Linked DNA regions of Homo sapiens: regions 1, 3 and 4 are each linked to region 2. Evidence: fine-mapped expression QTL. A gene starts in region 2. Each other region holds a variant in brackets. All regions are shown on one strand. Distances are between the middles of the regions.

Region 1 (5,174 bases), 35 kb after region 2:
AAACTTTTCACGGGAGAAACCCAGCAGACACCTTAACCAAGGGATACCATGTACCCATGACATGACATAATGAGAAGGACACTTTAGCTCACAGTCCTCTTCCAAAAACGTAGATAACTTCCCCAGGAAAGTCACAGGGAAAGCTGCAGCAAGCCCACATTGAGGAGCATTGTACAAAATACCTGACCATTCTTCCTCAAAACTGTCAGGGTCACCAAAAACAAGACTGAGAAACCATCATAGCCAAGAGGAGACTAAGGAGACATGACAACCAAATGCAATGTGGTGCCCTGGACTAGGTCCTAGAATAGAAAAAAAAGACAGTAAAGGGAAAGCTGGTGAAATCCAAATGAAATCTGGAGTTGAGTTAAATAGTAATATAGCAATGATGGTTCCTTAGTTTTGACAAATGTACCACAACAATGTAAGATGATAACATTAGGGGAAGCTAAAACTGGATGAGGGGTATACAGGAACTCTCTTTACTGTTTTGCAACTTCTTTGTAAATCTAAAATTATTCCAAAATAAAAGGTTGTATATTAAAATTAATTAAAACAAAAAGAGGCAAATAAAGTCAACATAGAAGCGTGAAGGGAATGTAAAAGCATGCTAATACTCTTTTTTTTTTTTTTTGAGATGGAGTTTCGCTCTTGTTGCCCAGCCTGGAGTGCAGTGGCATGATCTTGGCTCACTGGAAACTCCACCTTCCCGTTTCAAGCGATTCTCCTGCCTCAGCCTCCCAAGTAGCTGGGATTACAGGCACACACCACCACGCCCAGCTAATTTTTGTATTTTTAGTAGAGATGGGGTTTCACCATGTTGGCCAGACTGGTCTCGAACTCCTGACCTTGTGATCTGCTGGCCTCAGCCTCCCAAAGTGTTGGGATTATAGGCATGAGCCACCGCACCCGGCCAAAGCATGCTAATATTCTTGCCTGGTTTGGAGGGTTGTAGGGGAAGAATGATTTGAATGCTGATTCATTCTAGGTGTTGCATAGCAACTTAAGTTTAAGCACTTCAAGTTCTAGTTTCACCACTTGTAACCTTTGCAAGTTGCTTAACTTTTCTAAGCTTCAGTCTCCTCACTTAAAAGACAAAAACTTGTTTTCCTTGATGTTTAAAGCTATATTAGAAGTAAATAAGAAGGAAAAAAATGGGTAAGACAGTTGATAATTCACATATTTAAATAGTCAGCCTTACTAGGAATAATTTAGAACAGCAGTATAATGCTTTGTTTCTGCTGTTAGGTCACTGCTTTTAAAAAGCAAAGCCATGTGAGCAAGACTGGGGGATGGGAGCTCCTCCGTCGCTTCTGTTGGGGATTCAGGCCAGTTCTCTGAGTCGAGTTCTAAACAGATTCATCCCTCTGATCCAGTAATTTCCACCCCCAACAGTCTTTCCTGGGGAAGTAATCGAGCTACATGATGGTAATATGCATAAATTGATAACATTAAAAGCAAGCAAAACTCTAATAATAAAAGGATAAATTGAATTATGGTACATTCTCTGGTGAATATTGCATATCAAGGAAAATGTGAAAAATGTAAATACAGCCGTGTAAATGAAGAGGAAAATGTAAAGCTAAAAAGCGGGAAATAGCGTATCTATATTTTAGGTAACATTTAAATGATGATAATAGCTAATATTTTTATGAACCCCTTACTATGTGCAGGGTACTTGTTCTGTTTTGCCTACACATTAATTCATTTAATCCTCCTAACAACCTCTGAGGTATGTAGTATTACTGCCCCATTTTTCACAGCTGTGCTGCAGTCGAGTGCCTGTCCAAGTACACACTGGCCTGAGTAGGCCCAGGAGGCTGGGTGATGTGGCTCCGCAGCCTCCACTCCTGTCCACTGTGCACACTGCCTCTGTTATATTAATTCATCAAATATTGAGGGTCCCTTTGATGCCACGCACTATCCACCACTGGCACCCTGACACTTAGACCCTAACAGATATGGCTGTTGCTCGTGAGGATCTTTATTTATTAGGAGGTGA[C/T]AGAAAGTAAAATCAGATAATGCATGCCACGTGGATCATTAAAACAGACTGAGTTGCAAAGAGTGACTCCGTGGTTTCTGTGGCTTGTTTGGTCAGAAAGGTGTTTCTGAGATGAAGCTGAGCAGAGCTGTCCAAAGAACAGGAAAGAACCAGCTAGGCTGTGATTGGGGGATAGTGGTTTCAGGCAGAAAGAACAGCTACTGGGTTTCCTAGGGTGTTTGGAGCACAGCCGGTGAGGGGCACATAGCTGGGCCAGGGCATGTAGAGCTTGTTCAGCCTCTGGAAGGCATTGGGATTTTATGCTAAGTATGTTGGAAAGCCTTTGGAGGGAGAATGGATTGTGTGTGGCTCTGGCTGGCAGCAGCCAGTTAGGCTTTCACAGTAGACAAGGGGAGATGATTGTGGCTTGGGTGACAGTGTATTATAATTACGGAGAAAGGTTTGGATATGATTCAGAGATAGGGCTGACAGAGCTTGCTGTTGGATTAGATGTAGGAAATTAGCAAAGGAAAGGAATGGGAGAGCAGAGATTGGGATTCAACTGGAGCCATAGTAGCCATGTGTTGTTTATCAGACATCCAAGGGGAGGTGCCAAATTGCTAGTTGGCTACAGGGATCTGGCATTCTGTGAGAGGCCAAGGCTTGGGTATATAGGTTATGTGTGGATAACTGCATCTCCCACATGCTTAGGAGGCCAGATAAAACAGTGCAAGAAAATATTAACAATAAGGATTATGGACAATTTGAGTTTCCTTCTACTTTCCTTTGTGAAAATGTGTTGCTTTAAAAATCAAACCAATGATTCCTTTTTCCAAGTCTGATAATATTTGAAGAATTTTTAGAGAAACTAAGTTACAAAGTTATAGTACTTATATAATCAGAATTGGCATGGTGTAGAGATGTCAAAGTGGGTGTTTTGCTTTTTAATACTTTGTATCAGGGTTATATTTTAACAAAGAGATAAGAATATTAGAGACAGGAGTGGTGGCTCACACGTGTAATCCGAGCACTTTGGGATGCCGAGGTGGGTGGATCACCAGAGGTCAAGAGTTCGATACCAGCCTGGCCAACATGGTGAAACCCTGTCTCTACTATAAATACCAAAATTAGCCAGGTGTGGTGGCGCACACCTGTAATCCCAGCTGTTCAGCGGACTGAGGCACGGAAATCGCTTGAACCTGGGAGCTGGAGGTTGCAGTGAGCCAAGATTGTGCCACTGCCGTCCAGTCTGGGCAACACAGTGAGACTCTGTCTCAAAATAATAATAATAATAGAGTCTAGTCTTCATTTTGCCACTAAAATTATGTCTCTCTATATATTTATTTATTCAACACGTATTTATTGAAAGCTTGTCATGTGCCTGGCATTGTTCTAGGTGCTAGGAATATAGCAGTGAACAGAATCCACAAGTCCTCCCCTCAGGGAGCTTTACATTCTAGAAGGGGAAGAAGTTCTCCCCCTCAGCTCAAAAAAAAAAAAATTGAAAAGAAAAATGCCAAACTCATCCATCAGCTCCAATCTGAGCTGAGCCCTCAGGGCTGCCTGGTTCATTATGTGTTTTCCTGTTGATTCTCCTATTCTGTACAGCAGCAATTTCAGACTGTGCCCACTCTTCTCAAAATTTGTCACCTCTGCAGACCTTGATATTCCTGCTATCTGCAGGAATTTCTGTGTAGGTGCCTTACAGATCACTCAGATTCATTATGGCCAGAACCAACTCCATGTTGTTCCTCTCTGGGCTGGCCCTTCCCCTGGGCTTCATCTTAGGGATAGCACCATTACATACCCACTGTTCAGGACGGAAGCCTGCTGTCATCTTGGTTGATCCTTCTCCTTCACTCCCCACTCCTGCCCATTCAATCACTTGCTGACTTCTGTGAAGTCTCTGACCTAAATCTTTTCCACATTCCACATCCATACACTCTTTTGCTTTTGGTACATACCACAGTAGCACACACTAGACTAGCAGCTTCCCATCCCTAGTTATAGCTGTTGCCTCTTTTCTTTGTAGCATGTATCACCACCTAAAATGTATATTTATTTATTTACTATTTTCCCACCCAAACAAAGGCGCTTTGATGGCAGGGACTTTGTCACCTCTGTTTATTGCTAAGCCTCAGTTACTAGAACCATATCCAAAAGATTAAACACTTGTTGAAAGTATGAATAAAATAAAAGGTTTATCAGGCTTCAACTTGTAAGCAGAAGTGATTCCAAGGACTCAGTGTCATCAATGCCCTGGTTTTATATTTCTTTCTCTACTTAGACTTAAGTGGTGACAGCCTCATATTAAAGCTGGTTTCTCGCATGGTAGAAAAGGACTTTGGCAGTTCCAAGCTTCATAGCTGCATCGTGCACTAGAGGTCAACAAATGTTTTCTGTAGAGAGCCAGATAAGAAATGTTTTAATCTTTATAGGCCATACAGTTCTGCTGCAACTACTCAACTCTGCCACTGCACTGTGAAAGCACCCATAGACAATTTGTAAACAGATCAACACAACTACGTTCCACTAAAATTATTTACTAAAGCAGGCAGCAGGCCAGATTTAGCCAGAGGCCATCGTTTGCTGACCCTGCCCTACGACCAAATGTCCTTTCTAGTGAGTCTCTTAGAAGAACGAAGGAGCTTTGTTTTCCAAAGTTCCCAACAACCACCCTGGTTTACCTACTTGGCCTGATTTTTTTTTAAATACCTATTAGTGAGCCAGTAAGTAAGTGAGCCACTATGGTAAGTGGGGTGAGACTGTCTCACTAGTATAGAGACTCATGGCCCACTCCGAATCTACTGGTGACAGCAGCTTCCCTGAATTCATGGGCTGCCCAGGGCCAGGTAATTACCAGAACAAAACTGTACCAATCAGGAAGGGGGTTGGGGGAATGGATACTGGGTAGGCACCAGATAAAGTCTACTGTGTAAGGTTGATCCTGTGTGTTACAATTTGTTTATGCAACTGTTGTCCTAGAATGTAAGCCCCTTGAAGTCAGGCACCACAATGATAATTAGTAACCTCAGCTTGCACCTTGTACAGGCTTTGAGTTCTATTTTTATTTGTTTTGTAAGGATTTAATAACATAAGTGCATGTGATCCTTAATCAGTCACATAAATGACAGGAAAAAAGTATACATTAGAAAATAATTTGTTTCATCGTTGATTAAAACTTCTGCTTCTT
Region 2 (5,174 bases):
AATGCTGGCTGGTGAGGCTGGCGAGAAATGGAATGTTTGTGTCTCTCAGGACATGAAAGCGAGACGGAAGGAGAACCTCATTCAGTTTTACTGGAAACCCACAGCAAAGTTTCTCCAAGTAGAGGCCGGTGTGATGAGAACTGCTAAATCATGAGCTGCGAGGCTGGCTCAAACAAGAGGCTTATGAGCCCCATGCCTGTGTCCTTTCCTACGGTTTTCCTTCTTATGACAAGCAGCACTTTTTGACAGCACAACACTAAACACTAACACAAAATACAGTGAAAAGGGATAAAAAGAATGGCCTGATTCCACTAGAGATGCCAGACAAATGAGAATCAATAACAAAACCAGAGTACCAAACTGAGAATAAATAGCCAGAGACCTCCACGCAGAGTGAGGTGAGCCCTAGTGCTGACCACATCGGCGCACCTGATAGGCCGAGAACATGGAGGCATGAGGGGCCTCTGGGTGGCACAATGGGTGGAAGCCTGGGGACCTCAGGGACAAGCAGTACAGACTTACCATGGGATCACCAGGAAAACTGTGGAAACCAGCAAAGGCTATTTATTCACAACTTGCTATAGCAGGGGAATCAGCCAGCATCACTTACTTTTGGTAGAAATTTAAAAGGCCCGAAAGAGATGGGAAACTTTTATTGTTTTGTTTTGTTTAAGTATCAGATTGGAAATTATTGGCAGGAAATGTTTTTAATTACATTTTTCTGATATTAAACCCAACACAGTTGTACTTTAATATTTTCCCTAGGAGAACTACTTATTTTACAACTATATCCCAGTGTATCACCCATGATCAGCCACATAATTTGAATCATGCATTATCTTCTCTCCACATTCAAATTACATACATTTAGTATTTGGCTACTTAAAAAAAAATCATTAAAAAGTAACAATTTAAATCCATTGATGGGAGAACCTCAGTTAGTTTCAAAACAACAATTCTTGCCAGGCGGGGTGACTCACGCCTGTAATGCCAGCACTTTGGGAGGCCGAAGCTGGAAGATCGCTTGAGCCCAGGAGTTCAAGGCCAGCCTAGGCAACAGAGGGAGGCCCCATCTCTACCAAAAAAAATATTAACAATTAGCCGGGCATGGTGGCATGCACCTGTGGTCCCAGCTACTCGGGAGGCTGAGGCGAGAGGATCGCTGGAGTCGGAGGTGGGGAGGCTGCAGTGAACCGTGATCGCTCCACTGCACTCCAGCCTGGGCGACAGAGCGGGACCCTGTCTCAAAAAATAGATGAATAAATAAATAAAAACAATTATAATGGAAGTTTGGATAGGAATTTAAAACATGTGGCAACTAACCCTGACCCTGCGGCTTCAGTCTCCCCGCCGCTAGCTGAGGGCCGTGGCCGCTGCACAGAGGCTTGTGAGGATTCGGGGGTTCAGGCAGCGCCCGCCGCGCATCTGCCAGACGTGCGGCCACAGGGTAGGAGCAGTAAGAAGGATCCAGGGAAAAAAGTCCACGAATGAGAAAGGAAACCCAGCGTTTGTAGGGCTAGGAGAACAAAGAAAGAAAATGCTGGCGGCGGAGGGCGAGGCTCTGCGGTGCGTGGCAGATGGGAATTTGCTCGGTGGCGGCTCCTCTTTCTGGAGAGCTTCCCAGCGTCCCCTCCCCCGCCAGCCCGCGGTGACGCGCCCGGCACCCACCACAGCCGGCTCTCGGCGCCGTCGCGCCTTCGCTCGCCCGCTTAGGCCGTGCTCGCGGTGGCGTGGGAGACAGAGAGCCCAGGGAGGACCCTGGAACATGCAGTGGTATGGAAGACGCCTAAGAAAGGGCTTCTCTTTCCACTCACGAAAATCAGTGTGTGAGCTCGAAGCCATTTCCCAGCGTGTCCGCCTCAACTCCCTCATTCAACAGATGAGGAATTCCTCCAGGGAAATGCAGTGATGCGCTCACGGCTGCCGGCGGCCCAGCGCCAAGGGGCGCTCCACAGCCCCGCGGCCCGAAGCCCTCGACTCGGCTGCCACGCAGGCCCCGCGGCCCCGCTCGGACTCCCAGGATCGGCTTCCGAGCGGGACAGCGCTGCAGTCCACGAGTCCGGGCAGGGGCGCCTCCAGGCCGGAGCGGTTTCCTGCCTCGGGCACTCTGCTGTCTCCACAAACGGTTTTTGGAGGCACACACACGGATACTTTAAACACGTCGGTGATGAATCGGTACCCAGCTGCCAGTGGCGGAGCTTCCTGGGCGGGGCCGCGGGCGCGCGGCGGCTTCATTTCCTCGCGCGCGCCGGAAGTGGCCTCTCAGGCGCGGCGGCGCGCCCGGGGGTGGGTGGCTGAGGCGGCGGCGGGCCCAAGGCGTGAGGCGCCGCCCGGGTGTCCCCGCGGCGCAGGAGGCGGTGGAGCGCAGAGCGGGCGAGCGCGGTGAGTACCTGGCCCGGCCTCGCCCGCCGGTCCGCGACTCCCGCCGGCTCCGGCCCGGGCGGTGCGGGCGCCGGGGCTGCGGGCTCCTGTGTGGTCGGGTGGGGTCGCCTAGCGGACCGGTCCTGCGGGGGGCCCTGTCTCTCAGGGATGAGCCTGCCGGAGTCGGCACCGGTTTTAGGGAAAGCGCGGCCAGAGACGATTGGTTCGCTTGTCAGTGTTGGGTTTTGTTTTGTTTCGTTTTGTTTTTACCTATTCATCACCATCTCTGCTCCTCTCAGTGGATAAACTTTTTAATCAGTGGTGACCTCGTCATCGCGTTAAAATAGTTCTGCCCTCAGCCCCTCTTTATCTGTAGATGGCAGAGCGAGCGCCGGTAAAGATGCTCTGTCGTGGAGGGCTCAGTGGGGCGGAGGAGATGGGGAGCCTCTGGCGTTGTCGGAGAATGCACCTTAAAAATGACTCTACCCTTGAGCAACGCAGGAAGCACGACAGTGATACTTCTGTTTGTGATGATGGTATTGGCGGTATGATAGTTTGATTATACATCTGAAGCTTCTCTTCCTGAGTCCTTGGCTTGTTAAACTTGGAGGTATTTTCTAGCGTGCTTTTGAGATAGATATGGGATGTCGTGACGTTTCACCGTCATTCAAGGCTCGCGGGAGCAGGGCCTTCATGTCTGGTAATTAATGTTGTTTTTTGAATGTTGTATTAAAATAGTAGCTTCGATCTTGGAAGTAAGAAGCCAAGTATTTTAGGACTGAGTGTTAGCGTTCATTTTGTATTATTGTTCTTGTACCATTTGTTTAAAGTTGTCATGTAACTAAAAGAATGAAAAAAGATGGATTTCCAGTATTTGTGGCTCAGAGGATTTTGGCCTAAATAAACACAGTTCCAACCAGTTTAGAAGCTGCATTTTTCTCTTTGTTTTTGTCGAGGCATAAAATACATATGAAATCAATAAGAGCACGAATCTTAATTGTACAGCTCAATGAATTTTTACATACTTATTACCCTGTGGAACCACCAGATATATCAAATTATAACCATAGAACATTTCCATCATCCTATTTTCCTGTGCTTCTTCCAAGTCAGTTATATCCTTGTTTTCCCATCTGTATTCTAACTTCTCTTATCTGCTTTTAGTTTTCTCTGTTTTGAGCTTCATGTTAATGGAATCACGTAGTATTCTCAGCATATTGTTTGTGGGACACACCCATGCTATTTCATGGTATTGTATTATTACTGTGTAATAGTCTATTGAATAATATGTGACTACTCTTCAGTTGATGGACATTTATGTTCCCAATTTTTGTATATGATGTGTTTTGGATATTAAGAATACTGTGGGCCTGGCGTGGTGGCTCAGGCCTTTTATCCCAGCGCTTGGGGAGGCCGAGGCAGGTGGATCACTTGGTCAGGAGTTCGAGACCAGCCTGGCAAACATGGTGAAACCGCATCTCTACTAAAAATACAAAAATTAGCCAGGCGTGGTGGCGGGCGCCTGTAAGCCCAGCTACTTGGGAGGCTGAGGCGGGAGGTGGAGGTTGCAGTGAGCCGAGATCGTGCCACTGCACTCCAGCCTGGACGACAGAGCCTGACTCGGTCTCAAAAAGAAAAGAAAAAAAAAAGAGTACTGTGGACATTCTTGTAAATTAAATGTCTTGGTGAGCATCTGTATGCATTTCTGTCAGCTATAGAATGACTGAGTCATGGCATAAGCAGAAAATTACCAACATGGAGTCATTACCAACCATACCATTACCAACCAAAGGCAGAAAATTTAACCAACATGGAGTCATCTTTTTTTTAATGTAATAGAATTTGTTATTTTAACTAATATAACATTCAAGGTTGGTTTTAAAAAAGCATAACTATTATGAGTTCAAGACGTAAGTGATTCATTCATTACCATGTTATTATTTACCCTTTGAATTGCACATTTATGACTGTCTTCTGTCGGACTGTCATTGTTTGTTTAACTGTTAGACAAGTCTGTTAGAGCTGGTGAGGATCTGACTCTGAAGTTTAGCATAACATTTACTTAAGAACTGTATTACTCAAGTTAGTGGTTTTTTAGAGGAAATGAAATACCAAAAGGATATGACTGAAAGTGGATTGAAGAATCACGGGACTGCAAGTCAAAGAACTTACATTGTTATTGTCATGCTACACAAGCACTAGGTATAAGTGTAAAATTGAATTATAGGGCTAGTTACAAATGTGAATTCACAGCAGGAGTACAGTGATTTTCATATGGACTGAGATACTACTAGCACATTTATAATGTGAACACACAACAAAAATCACTAAACATTTGTGGGAAATCGGTAGCATCTAAGAGAAGCTTCAGACCAAACAAATACAGAACTAGGCACTGAAGCAGTGGAGCTAATGTAAGACAAAAGAAAGCTTTAAAGTAAGTATTAGTATCTTCAAATTTGTTAAGGTATTATGCCTACTGAACACATACAGGCTGCCATGAAAAAAAGCAATTGATTCTTGAATATTTAAACATGGAAAGTAGGAAAGGGCCAGGTGTGGTGGCTCATGCCTGTAATTCCAACACTTTGGAAGGCCGAGGCAGGAGGATCTCTGGATTCCAGGAGTTTGAGAGCAGCCTAGGCAACATAATGAGACCCTGTCTCTACAAATAATTTTTTTTTTTTTTGAGACGGAGTCTGGCTCTGTTGCCCAGGCTGGAGTGCAGTGGCGCCATCTCGGCTTACTGCGAGCTCCACCTCCCAGGTTCACGCCATTCTCCTGCCTCAGCCTCCCGAGTAGCTGGGACTACA
Region 3 (5,174 bases), 120 kb after region 2:
GCTTGGGGGAATAGAGGGCTGACCCAGGCACTCCTGTGTGTGCACGGTACTGCCACCCACCCACATGGGTGTGCATACACAGGCACACTCCACATCGTGGACACATCTTTAGTTTCAAGGGTGTCAGCAGGTGGGACACAGAGCAGTGCACCCCAGAAGGAGCAGACAGACCAGCACACCCACCTCTCCACAGCCAGGACTAGGTGGGCAGGGGAACCAGGCCAGGAGTCAAGGGCCTGGCCAGGCACTTGGAGTTGGAAGGCAGGGAGGAAGGGGTGGGCTACGGGGCTGCGGGACAGGCCGGGGCTCGGCATCCAGCAGCTCTTTCTAGTAGGCAGGCCTGCCTGGGAAGGAAGGGCAGGGCATTAATGGGTAGTCAGTGACTCTGTCTTCCAAACCCAACTGCCTGGCCAGGCCCTTGACTTCTGCTTAGCCATGGACTCCCAGGAAGGGAGGGGACGTGACTGTGAGGCAGACACAGTGCACTTTCTTTTCTGAAGGTCTGATTTCCCCTCACATGTCCTAAGCTCAGGGGCTTTTTAGCACAGACAGAGGACCCGGTTTCAGGGCTCGGCTGCCAAACTCACCTGACTCCCACTGGCAATAGAGCCCCTCCACAGAGGCTTGCAGGCTCCCTCTGCTGCACACCCAGTGACTGGCTCGCGGCGGGAGGCAGCACCCGAGAGAGGACCCTGTGCCTCCTGCTCACCCTCGACACAGACCCACTGGGACTAACCGCTCCCCTGCACCCTGGCACTCATCGTCCGCACCCCACTGGAACCCACAATCTGCTGCCAACAACCCCAGCTCTCCTCACAGAGCACCGCACCCCACGCCTTCAGGACCAGCGAGTTCAAAGGAGCCCATCGTGGGCAAACCCCCATGGTCTCCTCTGTCCATGCCCCAGACAAAGGGGCTGTGCACACCCAGCCCAGGGAGGGCCCACAGGCGGGGGTGCCCCCACACACTTCCACGCCCACCGTAGCAAGGCCACCTGCAGGAGGGGCCTGGCCAGGTCCAGCCTTCCTGACACCCACCCCACACCCCCCACCACCTCATCCTGATGTGTTCAGCGGGTGCCACAACCTCCAAACTACCCCGTGTGTGGATTTGAGGTCCTTGTAGCTCCCCAGACTGTAAACTCCCAAATCCCCGGGGAGGGCTGCCTTGCTCACCTCATGTGAGGGATTAGGCTCTCAAGAGTGGGTATGGCCCCCAAATATGCCCACAGCCTGATCTCCAGAACCTGGGAATGTTCCCGTATTCGGCAAAAGGGACTCTGTAGGTGTAATTAGGCAGAGGCTCTTAAGGCTGCTGGGAGATTCTCCTGGGTGGGCCCATTGTATTCACAAGTCCTTAAAGTTGAAGAATCTTTCCCCGCTGCAGTCAGAGAAAGTGTGAGGACAAGACAGGGTCAGGGAGATGGTGGCGTCAGGGGACCCAACACCTGTGGCTGGCTCGGAGCTGTAGGGAGCCTCACACAAGGCCCAGAGGGGGCTCTAGGGGCCCTCAGGGGCCAACATCCCACAGGGGACGGGGACCTCAAGGAATGAGATTCTACCAACAGACACCTGCGTGACCACGATTCTGCCTGGAGCCTCCGAAGAGGCAGGCCGGCCAGCGCCTTGACCTCAGCCCCTAAGACCCGACCCAGCCTCTGACCTACTGGCCGAGATAAGAAGCATGTGGTGCGGAAGCAGCTCCATCTGTGGGACTTTTTTGCAGCAGCAATAAGAGGCAGGGGCAGCCCACCCTGCTTTGAGCACCAGCCGGCTGGCCACAGGCACAGACCACAGGGGCAGGACCCCTCTAGGGCTCACCCGGCAGTGCCCCTAAGCTGGGCCTGGGGCAGGCCTGCCTCCCCATGGGGTCTGGCACCATCCTCCCCACCCTCAGGCCCACAGAGGGCAGACGGAGACTCACATGCCAGGCCCAGTGCTCGGTGGATGGCCTCCCACCAGGGCTGTGCTCTGTGACCCCAGCTGTGCAAGGAAGTGGGCTGCAGGAAAATATCCCCTGCAGGAAACCCTGGAGCCAGGACACTTCAGGGAGGGCGGGAGACAAACAGAGGGGGCCTTCAGGGTCCTCTTGGGAACTGCAATGTGCCAGTGGCACCAGGACAGCTGTGGGGCCATGGAGGGCTGCAAGGGGCCATGTAGGTAGACCCCCCCAGTGCTGGCGGCCTCCACTTGTTGCCCCCTTAGATCTGTGTGGTGGGGCACTGGCCCTCCTGCTGAGGGCACGGGTTTCCTAACAGGCACCTATCCTTCAAGCTCCTTGGGCCTGGCCCAGACCTTCCAGCCCTGTGGGCTGTGCTCTTCCTGCTGGTCCTGCCTGCCCTCTCCACCTCGGGCCTCACGGCTGCACCGCTAACCCCCGCCCCCGGACCTGGTCTACTGTTGCAGGGCCCGGAACTGACACCTTCACACTCAGGTCACAGCGCAGTGACACCCGGCCTCTGGGCCTCAGCTGCTGGCAGAAGGCTGGGTGGGGGCTAGGTGGGGGCTGGGAGTCCATAAGGCTGTGCTCCCTGAGCAAGTCTCTGTGGTCACAGGCAAGGATGGAAACCGCTGCTGTAGCTCAGAGGTAAAACGGGTCTCTGTGGGATGAGCTCCAAGCAGGGGTCCAAGCAGGGGCTCCTCCTAGGGTCCCCAGAATAATCCCTGACTAAAGGGAGGGAACAAAGGAGACAGTCCCTTTATGGCACACAAGCAATGACACCAGTGACTCCATTGGGTCTGACATTGGGACCTCCTTGTGTAGCTGGTAGCCCCAGGGCCCACTGGAGGCCCCTCTATCCCCGCACTCCTGACACACTCGGCTGGGAACACTGGGGACTTTCCTCCTGGGCAGAGGCTCCCCATTCCCAGGCATCTGGAGAGGAAACCGGGAAGTGTGGGGTTTCCAGCACCTCCGGGAAGCCCCAGCCACCACCTGGTCTCTGCCTGGCAGAGTCCAGCCCCACCAGCCCAGCCCCTCCAGCCGGTGTCGGGCTTGGCTGCAGTGGGAATGCCCAGCAGGAAGGACAGCAGGATCCAGGAAATCTCCCAAAGTCACTATGCTGCACGGCCCCACCCAGGCCCCAGCGCCCTCCAGGCC[C/T]CTCACACCACCTAGGCCAAGCCGCCCAGCCCTGCCCGCCTAGGCTGCCCACTCAGCATCGCTCCTTCCTGCCCCACCCACTGCCATCTGGGCCTGGACGGCTCCAGGATATCCTGGACAGTGGGGCAGGCTGAGGTGAGAGAGCTGACCACTGTCCTGACCCAGCCCCAGGGCTGCACCCTCATCCAAAGGCTGGGGACAGCTGCCCCCACCTCCTCTTAGGCTGCAAGCTCTGGGGGCAGGCACACTCCTCACTCCTTGTCTCACAGCCCTGCCCAGAGCCTGCACCTGGAGCAGGACAGGAACATCACAGCTCTGCCATGTACCCTCTGCAGCCACCACTCTGAGGAGGTGAGGAGTGTCACTGGCATTTCATAGCAGCACAGACTGAGGCCAGAAACCGGAAGTGTCTGTCCAAGGACACAGGACACTGGTCAGGGCCAGAGTTAAAACCAAAACCCAGACTCCCATGTCAGGGGAACCCTGGAGCCAGGGCTGGGGGTGCTGGGGTGGGAGTAGGCACAAGTGTTGGCTCAGGACCACCAGGTGGTGGGTGTGTGGCCATTCCTGGGCACCTGTCACCCTTGGCTTCTCTGGGCTGGCTCCTGGCGCTGTCTGCCCACTGGCACCCCACTCCCCCAGAGGAGCACCAGTCTAGAGTGGGGGTGCAGTGTGGTCTGGGCTTCTCCGATGCCCTCCTTCCTCCCCTGGTTGCCAACAATGCTAAAGCTGCACGCCTGTGATCAGGGAGGCCCTCTCAGCTTGACTGCTCTCTCCTGCCCCCTAGAGCTACCATAGTGTTTAGACAGAGGCCATCCCCAGCCTAGGGGGAGCACTGTGCAGGAGGAGGCCCCCAGGGGACCCAGAGTGAACTGACTTTAGGGAGCCCATGCTAATGACTGTCCTGGCCACACTGTGCCCCACAAGCCACAGGTGGAGTGAGGATGCTGAGGGGGCCTGGAGCCAGGACAAGGCAAGCCAGGCGGGGGCAGGTGCGGCAGGTGCTGCTGGAGTCCCCCAACCCCTACCCAGAACACACAGCAGCCTGCATCCAGGCAGCCAGTGCGGAGCTTGGTTCTTGATCCGGCTGTGACTGGCTGTGTCCTCCCTGGACCATGTGCTCAGAGATGGGACAAGGGCTGAGCGGCTTGTCACAGGCAGAAAGAAGAACAGGAACAGGAACCTCAGGGAAAGAAAGGGCTGGTTGGGGGTGGAGGGGGTGGTGAATCAATAGCCAAGGGAGGTGGGTGAAGAAAGTGAGGTGCAGCAGGTCAAATACGCAGACCAGAGTGGCCTCTCCAGGATCCCTGCCCACATTGTAATGCATGGGCTACCTCTCTCGGCTTCCAGGGCACTGCACACTCAGTGCGACTCTGGACCTCAGCCGCTTCCCCCACACAGTCTCCCGTCCCTGGTTCTCTCCACGTTGGGGCTGAGGATGTGTCTGGTGTGGACCAGCGCACACCACAGCCACAGAGCAGTGCCCCCACTCGCGCCATCTGCACACAGACACAGATGAGCCGTGAAGGTGGCATGAAACCCCGGGCCTCTGTTCCCCGACTTTCTTGCCATTCCCTGGTTGCCGGCAGGAGTCCATCTTGGGGCCCAGCTGTTTCCTCTACAACCGGAAACCCCCTTCCTCCCTTCATGGTTTTGCCCAAACCTGGCCTTCCCAGGGTGGCTGCCTTCATCGCTCCCTCCTGGCACCTCTCCCTCCTTCCAGAATCATTAGGCTCATTTCTGTCTATTTTTAGGTTGTGTCTGCACTCCCAGAGTCTGGGCCATGCCTGGCGTGCATGGCCTGCAGTGGGTGAGGTTGTGATCCGACATCTCTCCCCAGGTCAACTTTCCACTCTCCAATGGTTCTGCCTGAGTCCATCTCTCAGGTGGGGGTGAGGGTGAGCAGCACCTTGCAGAATCCCTCACATGGCTCCAGAGGTCACAGCAAGAGGGAGGAGCCATGAGGCCTGGGTTCACACCCTGGACTGGCCACTTCTCGTTATCAGCACCAGCAGGACTCTTGACCCCTCCAAGCCTCGCTGACACACTGGTGATGATTTGCATGCCCACCCTGG
Region 4 (5,050 bases), 22 kb before region 2:
AGATCCACTGTGCGACGAGCTGTGCCGCACGGTGATCGCAGCCGCTGTCCTCTTCTCCTTCATCGTCTCGGTGCTGCTGTCTGCCTTCTGCATCCACTGCTACCACAAGTTTGCCCACAAGCCACCCATCTCCTCAGCTGAGATGACCTTCCGGAGGCCCGCCCAGGCCTTCCCGGTCAGCTACTCCTCTTCCGGTGCCCGCCGGCCCTCGCTGGACTCCATGGAGAACCAGGTCTCCGTGGATGCCTTCAAGATCCTGGTGAGGGTCCCTGCGGGGCAGGGAAGATCCCCTGCCCTCCCCAGCTGCCTTCCAGGGAGGGAGGCCAGCTGGGGAGACAGAGGCCATCCTGTGAGGGGCTGCCAACGCTGGGCAGACGAGGCCTGTGTTCTGCCCCCATTTCCATAGGGCGCTGTGTGGGGACAGTCTGTGGGGTGGGACTGTGATGAGGTGCCGTTCCCATCTAGGTGAGAGGCAGTGGTCAGGGTCACAGCATCGGGCAGGGGAGCAGCAGTGTGGATGGAGGGGCACTGAAGTCAGAAGGGGGTGCCTTTCTGGGGAGCCTGGCCTGCAGGTCTGCATGTGCTACTCAGAGCCTCCAGGCTGTGCCGAGTATCCTGGAGCCTCCTTGTCCCGGCCAGGCAGGCCTCTGCCCTCTCCTGGTGGTGGCCTGCCCCTTCAGTGTTCCTACTAGCACTGTCCAGGGCGCTGGAAGCCAAGCCCAGTTCTGGAAGTAACAGAGGCTCAGAGCCAAGGGTGTGAGTGAACGGTGAGCCACGCAGCTTATGGTGGCGTGAATAGCTCCTCGGCAGGAGCCTCCAGGGAGGAAGCTGAGCACCCAGTGGCCACAGGGCCCTGGCAGTTCCCATCTCAGGCTGGGAGGTGGCCTGGGATTCCTGGGAGGGGCCATATCCCACAGTGCAGCTCAGCCTGAGGCCTCGGCCCTGGAGCCTCCGTTCAGGCAACACCCAGCCCTCGGTAAGGGTGTGAGCCAAGGAGGCCTTCCCAGATGTGGCCACTGCCGCTTCCCCACCAGCTTTCCTAATTGGTGGTCCCCATCCTGGCCTGGCTGCAGCTTAGCCTCATGGCAGGGCTCTAGGATGAGCCACCAGAGTCCTTCATAAACCCAGTGGGTTTGTGTGAGGCTGCCCAGGAAGGCCGCACTGGTCTGGGCTGCTGCTGGCAGAGACCACCACCCTAACCCCAGTCAGCTCCAGAGTCACACTCATCAGCACCAGGTCTTGGACCCATGACTCAACCTCAGTATTTGAGAGGATCAGGTTGATGTCGCCCTCATGTGCTTATTGCAGTCTCTAGAGTGTGGTAAACAGGTTTCCAGTGCCAGCTGTGGAGGTGACAGCGGCAGGGAAGCCATGGCAGTGTCGACACTGACCTTGACTGTGGGTTCCCAGGGAATGTGGGGCCAGACCAGGACAGCCCAGGAGCAGGAGACCTGGGGTGACGGATGCCCAGAGCTGGCACATCAAGGGAGGGTTCCTGGATCATGGCAGGCTTTGGCCTCCCTGGTCAGAGTTCAAGTACTGGGGGCCAGGGTGGGGGTCTGGGAAGGCATCCGGAGCAGTCCCAAGTGGGCCCAATGTGTGGATAGAACTTTGGTGGGAGGGCAGGGTGGTAGTGCCAGCAGGCAGGGTGAGCGGGTGCGTGAGGGCCAGTGGCAGCCCTTGAGGAGCAGTGCTTCCACACTCTGAGGCGGAACATGGTGGCGCCTTTCTTTGCAGGGGTGGCTATGTAGAGAAGTTGTCCTGGACACTTCCACTGTAGTCAGAGGTCCTGGGCTGGGCCTGGTGCTCATTTAGTCCTGGGGCAGGGGTCAGGGGAGACAGTAGACCAGGAACCAGAGAGGGTCGAAGTACTGAGTCCAAGCCATGCTGTGACCACACCTGTCATGTAGCAGCTTTCAGGGGCCTGGCTGTGGGGTCC[T/C]GCCCAGGGCAGAGACAGGCAGCGTTGCCGCTGGCTCAGATGACAGCCGGTTCTCTGCACATTGGAACTTGTCCATGGGGCCTCCTTTAAGGGTCTTGCCTTCTTCCTCCCCTGTCATCCTCACACTTTTCCCCCCTCTTCTCCCCCTTCCCTCATTTCCAACATAGGAGGATCCAAAGTGGGAATTCCCTCGGAAGAACTTGGTTCTTGGAAAAACTCTAGGAGAAGGCGAATTTGGAAAAGTGGTCAAGGCAACGGCCTTCCATCTGAAAGGCAGAGCAGGGTACACCACGGTGGCCGTGAAGATGCTGAAAGGTACCTGCCAGGCACAGGCACAGTGCCCCTGGGGGAGTCTCCGGGGCGGGGGGCGGGTGAGGCCCCTCCTGCCCAGCATGGGACCCTGAAGAGCCCCCAATGCTGTTCTAGAGCGGCTGCAGTTGGGGGACCCCTACCATGGGCCACTTGGGCCTAGAGAAGCAGAGCGAGGACTTTGCTCTCCCTGGAAGGCTCTAGAGGTGTTGCTGTGCCAGTGCCACTGAAGATCTAAGCTTTAAACATTTAAAAAGCCCTTTGATTTTGAGCTGACAGCTGTCTTCACTCCAGTCTGCCCCATTCATTCCTCTCAGCCCAGTGTCTCCTGGGGTCTTGGTGAAGAGACCACCAGTAAGGACTGGCCCTCAATCTCAAGAGACCCCCATGGGCCTGTCTGGCCTGCATGCCCAGTCATGCCACAAGTTTGGCTCTCGATGGGCACATGCACCTACCCACACAGGCATGCGACTGCACTGAGTAGCCCCCTCTTCTGTGGCCAGGCCCCAGCCCTGTGAACAGCCAGGCTGAATGGCGGTGAGGGAGAGTGGTTGGTGTACATAACAATTATCTGCAGTAGTCGGGGGCTGCACAGCACAGGGTGCTTCCAGATGCCTACCCAGCCCCAGACTGGGTTCACCTCCAAGCCAGTAAAACCCCGGACTCTCCAGGGGCACAGGGAGACCCTTGGATTTCCATTGCAGCCATGCACAGCCCCAGGCTGCCCACACCTGGTCCAAGGGGTCCTGGGGCCCCAACTCCCAACTGTCCTCTCCCTTCCAGACAACCTTTCAGGACAGAGGAGGTGGCACGGCACAGCTGGGCAGTGGGACAGCTGACCTGGGAGGGATGGCTTAGCCATGTGTTCTGACTCTTGGAATACCTTCAGGCCCAGGCACCTGCTGGGCATTCCAGCACAGCTCTGGCCACCATCGGGACGCATGTGCTGGGCAGGTGATCCCTGTGGTGCCTCGTCCTGTTTCCATCATGCCTCTACAGTTAGACTCTCTGGGGAATCATGCTATTCATTAAGAATAAGCCAGAATGTCAGGTGTGCAGTGCACTGGTAACACTGCTTTATCTCAGGTGCTAATGTGGGTCTTCTTGGTAACTAACGGAGTGTGAGCTGCTGACGTGTGTGTGACGGATACATCAGCAGCACAGGAGATGCCTGGGCTCCAGGCTGGCCATCTCAGACAGGAGCGGGAAATGGGGAGCCTGGTCGCGGTGTGTGGACCTCCTTTATGGCTCTCCACCTTCTCCAGGGCCTCTCCCGACAAGTGGGTGTGTGGGTACCCCTCACCTTTCCAGAATGATTAATGCGGGGAATTTCTGTGGACGACTGTCTTCTAAAGACAATGACTACAGGAACATAATGCCACATACACAGGTGGCCCAGCCCTGGGACACTCTGGGGAAAGATCCGGCATGTGTGGTTGCTGGCTCCTCAGGGTGCTTCTTCCTCAGGGTGGATGAGGCCCCTGTCCACTGATCCCAAAGGCTGGGAGAAGCCTCAAGCAGCATCGTCTTTGCAGGCCTCTCTGTCTGAACTTGGGCAAGGCGATGCAGGTCCATCCTGACCTGGTATGGTCATGGAAGGGGCTTCCAGGAGCGATCGTTTGCAACCTGCTCTGTGCTGCATTTCAGAGAACGCCTCCCCGAGTGAGCTGCGAGACCTGCTGTCAGAGTTCAACGTCCTGAAGCAGGTCAACCACCCACATGTCATCAAATTGTATGGGGCCTGCAGCCAGGATGGTAAGGCCAGCTGCAGGGTGAGGTGGGCAGCCACTGCACCCAGGCTGGGGGCTCCATACAGCCCTGTTCTCCCTCTTTCTCCCTTTCCCTACTGCTCCTGCCCTGTTTCCTGTTCTCCCTCTTTCTGGAAGCCTGGCTCAGGCCCCAGCCTGGAGCTTGTGTCTAGCTGAGTCCACGGGCTGAGTGGTCACTTTCCATCAGAGGGGCCCCGCGCTAGCGGCACTCCCTGGGCCCACAGGGCTACTCAGAGGTCTCTGGTGTGACACTGCCATGTGTCCTCACCCAGTTCGGGGCTGGGCCCGTGGGGCAGGGAGCTCTAGGAATGGACAGTGCATCCTGGGTACTAGGGTACCCTGGGTACCACAGGGCACCAGGTGTGCTGTGACCTCAGGTGACCCCAGCCCCGCCCTGCATGGCAGGAACATTGTCACCATTTCTCAGATAAAGACCCAGGAGACCAGCCTGGTTTGTTGGTTTTCCAAACCACCATGCTGCTCAGGGGCTTCCCAGCATGCGTGTGTGGGTGTGTGCGAGAGGGATAGGGAACCCAAACACCGGGAGTGCGCAGCAGGCACTGTGGTCGGCACCAGTAGAGTTGGAGGCTGGGCCTGGGACAGGACAGGTGGGAACAGGGAGCAGGCTGTGTGCAGAGCCCAGCGCCAGGCAGGAACCCTTGCATCTGCGCAGGCCTCTGCCTCCATCAGCATCCCCAGCCTGCACTGGGGCAGGACCCAGGAGGCAAAAAGGCTTGGCGTCCTAGCATCAGGGAGGGGTGCCTCCCAGGGCAGTGTCGCCTGCCTCAGGCACCTCGAGAAGGAGGCACCCACACGAGCAGCAGGAGGCAGAGAGCAAGTGGTTCAAGAGAAAGCTGAGGCTTCAAGGTCTGCGCTCTCCACAGAGCTGCAGCAGTGCTGCCTGAGGCAGGGCTGTGTCCACCCCCTTACTCATTGGGTGGCCGGGCCTGGGGACCCTGCGGCCTCCCACCCCTGGCTCCTGGAAGACCCAAGCTGCCTGACCCGCACGCCCAGGGCCCCCTCTCTCCGCCCC

Direction of the effects. Alleles are on the strand shown, and positions count from the first base shown. SD is a standard deviation of normalised expression in the study named. Not every link is listed here.
With allele T in place of C in region 1, the expression in monocytes after R848 of the gene that starts at base 2,260 in region 2 is lower (large effect, 0.92 SD a copy in Quach 2016).

What was found. PIP is the estimated chance that this variant, and not a neighbour inherited with it, causes the effect.
Region 1: its variant is the best candidate, but not a certain one, in a credible set for the expression of CSGALNACT2 in monocytes after R848 (Quach 2016, PIP 0.54).
Region 3: its variant is the best candidate, but not a certain one, in a credible set for the expression of CSGALNACT2 in whole blood (INTERVAL, PIP 0.79).
Region 4: its variant is the best candidate, but not a certain one, in a credible set for the expression of CSGALNACT2 in putamen (GTEx, PIP 0.78).

Annotation. Positions count from the first base shown.
Region 1 is chr10:43,170,736-43,175,909 of GRCh38, forward strand. The region is part of intron 6 of CSGALNACT2 (chondroitin sulfate N-acetylgalactosaminyltransferase 2); the gene reads left to right. Among named protein-coding and RNA genes, the nearest start is that of CSGALNACT2, 35 kb to the left of the region's middle. RefSeq lists an enhancer at 2,130-2,299. The variant C/T (reference allele first, on the strand shown) is at 2,003.
Region 2 is chr10:43,136,186-43,141,359 of GRCh38, forward strand. It overlaps CSGALNACT2 (chondroitin sulfate N-acetylgalactosaminyltransferase 2), which reads left to right and starts at 2,260. Exons shown (of 8, transcript NM_018590.5): 1 at 2,260-2,382. It overlaps CSGALNACT2-DT (CSGALNACT2 divergent transcript), which reads right to left and starts at 2,208. Exons shown (of 1, transcript NR_186456.1): 1 at 639-2,208. RefSeq lists silencers at 1,557-1,756, 1,887-1,946, 2,117-2,616, 2,727-2,796.
Region 3 is chr10:43,252,150-43,257,323 of GRCh38, forward strand. All of the region lies in intron 1 of RASGEF1A (RasGEF domain family member 1A), which reads right to left. Among named protein-coding and RNA genes, the nearest start is that of RASGEF1A, 12 kb to the right of the region's middle. RefSeq lists a silencer at 3,799-3,988. The variant C/T (reference allele first, on the strand shown) is at 3,100.
Region 4 is chr10:43,114,478-43,119,527 of GRCh38, forward strand. RET (ret proto-oncogene) reads left to right here. Exons shown (of 20, transcript NM_020975.6): 11 at 3-259; 12 at 2,107-2,254; 13 at 3,896-4,003. Among named protein-coding and RNA genes, the nearest start is that of CSGALNACT2-DT, 21 kb to the right of the region's middle. The variant T/C (reference allele first, on the strand shown) is at 1,940.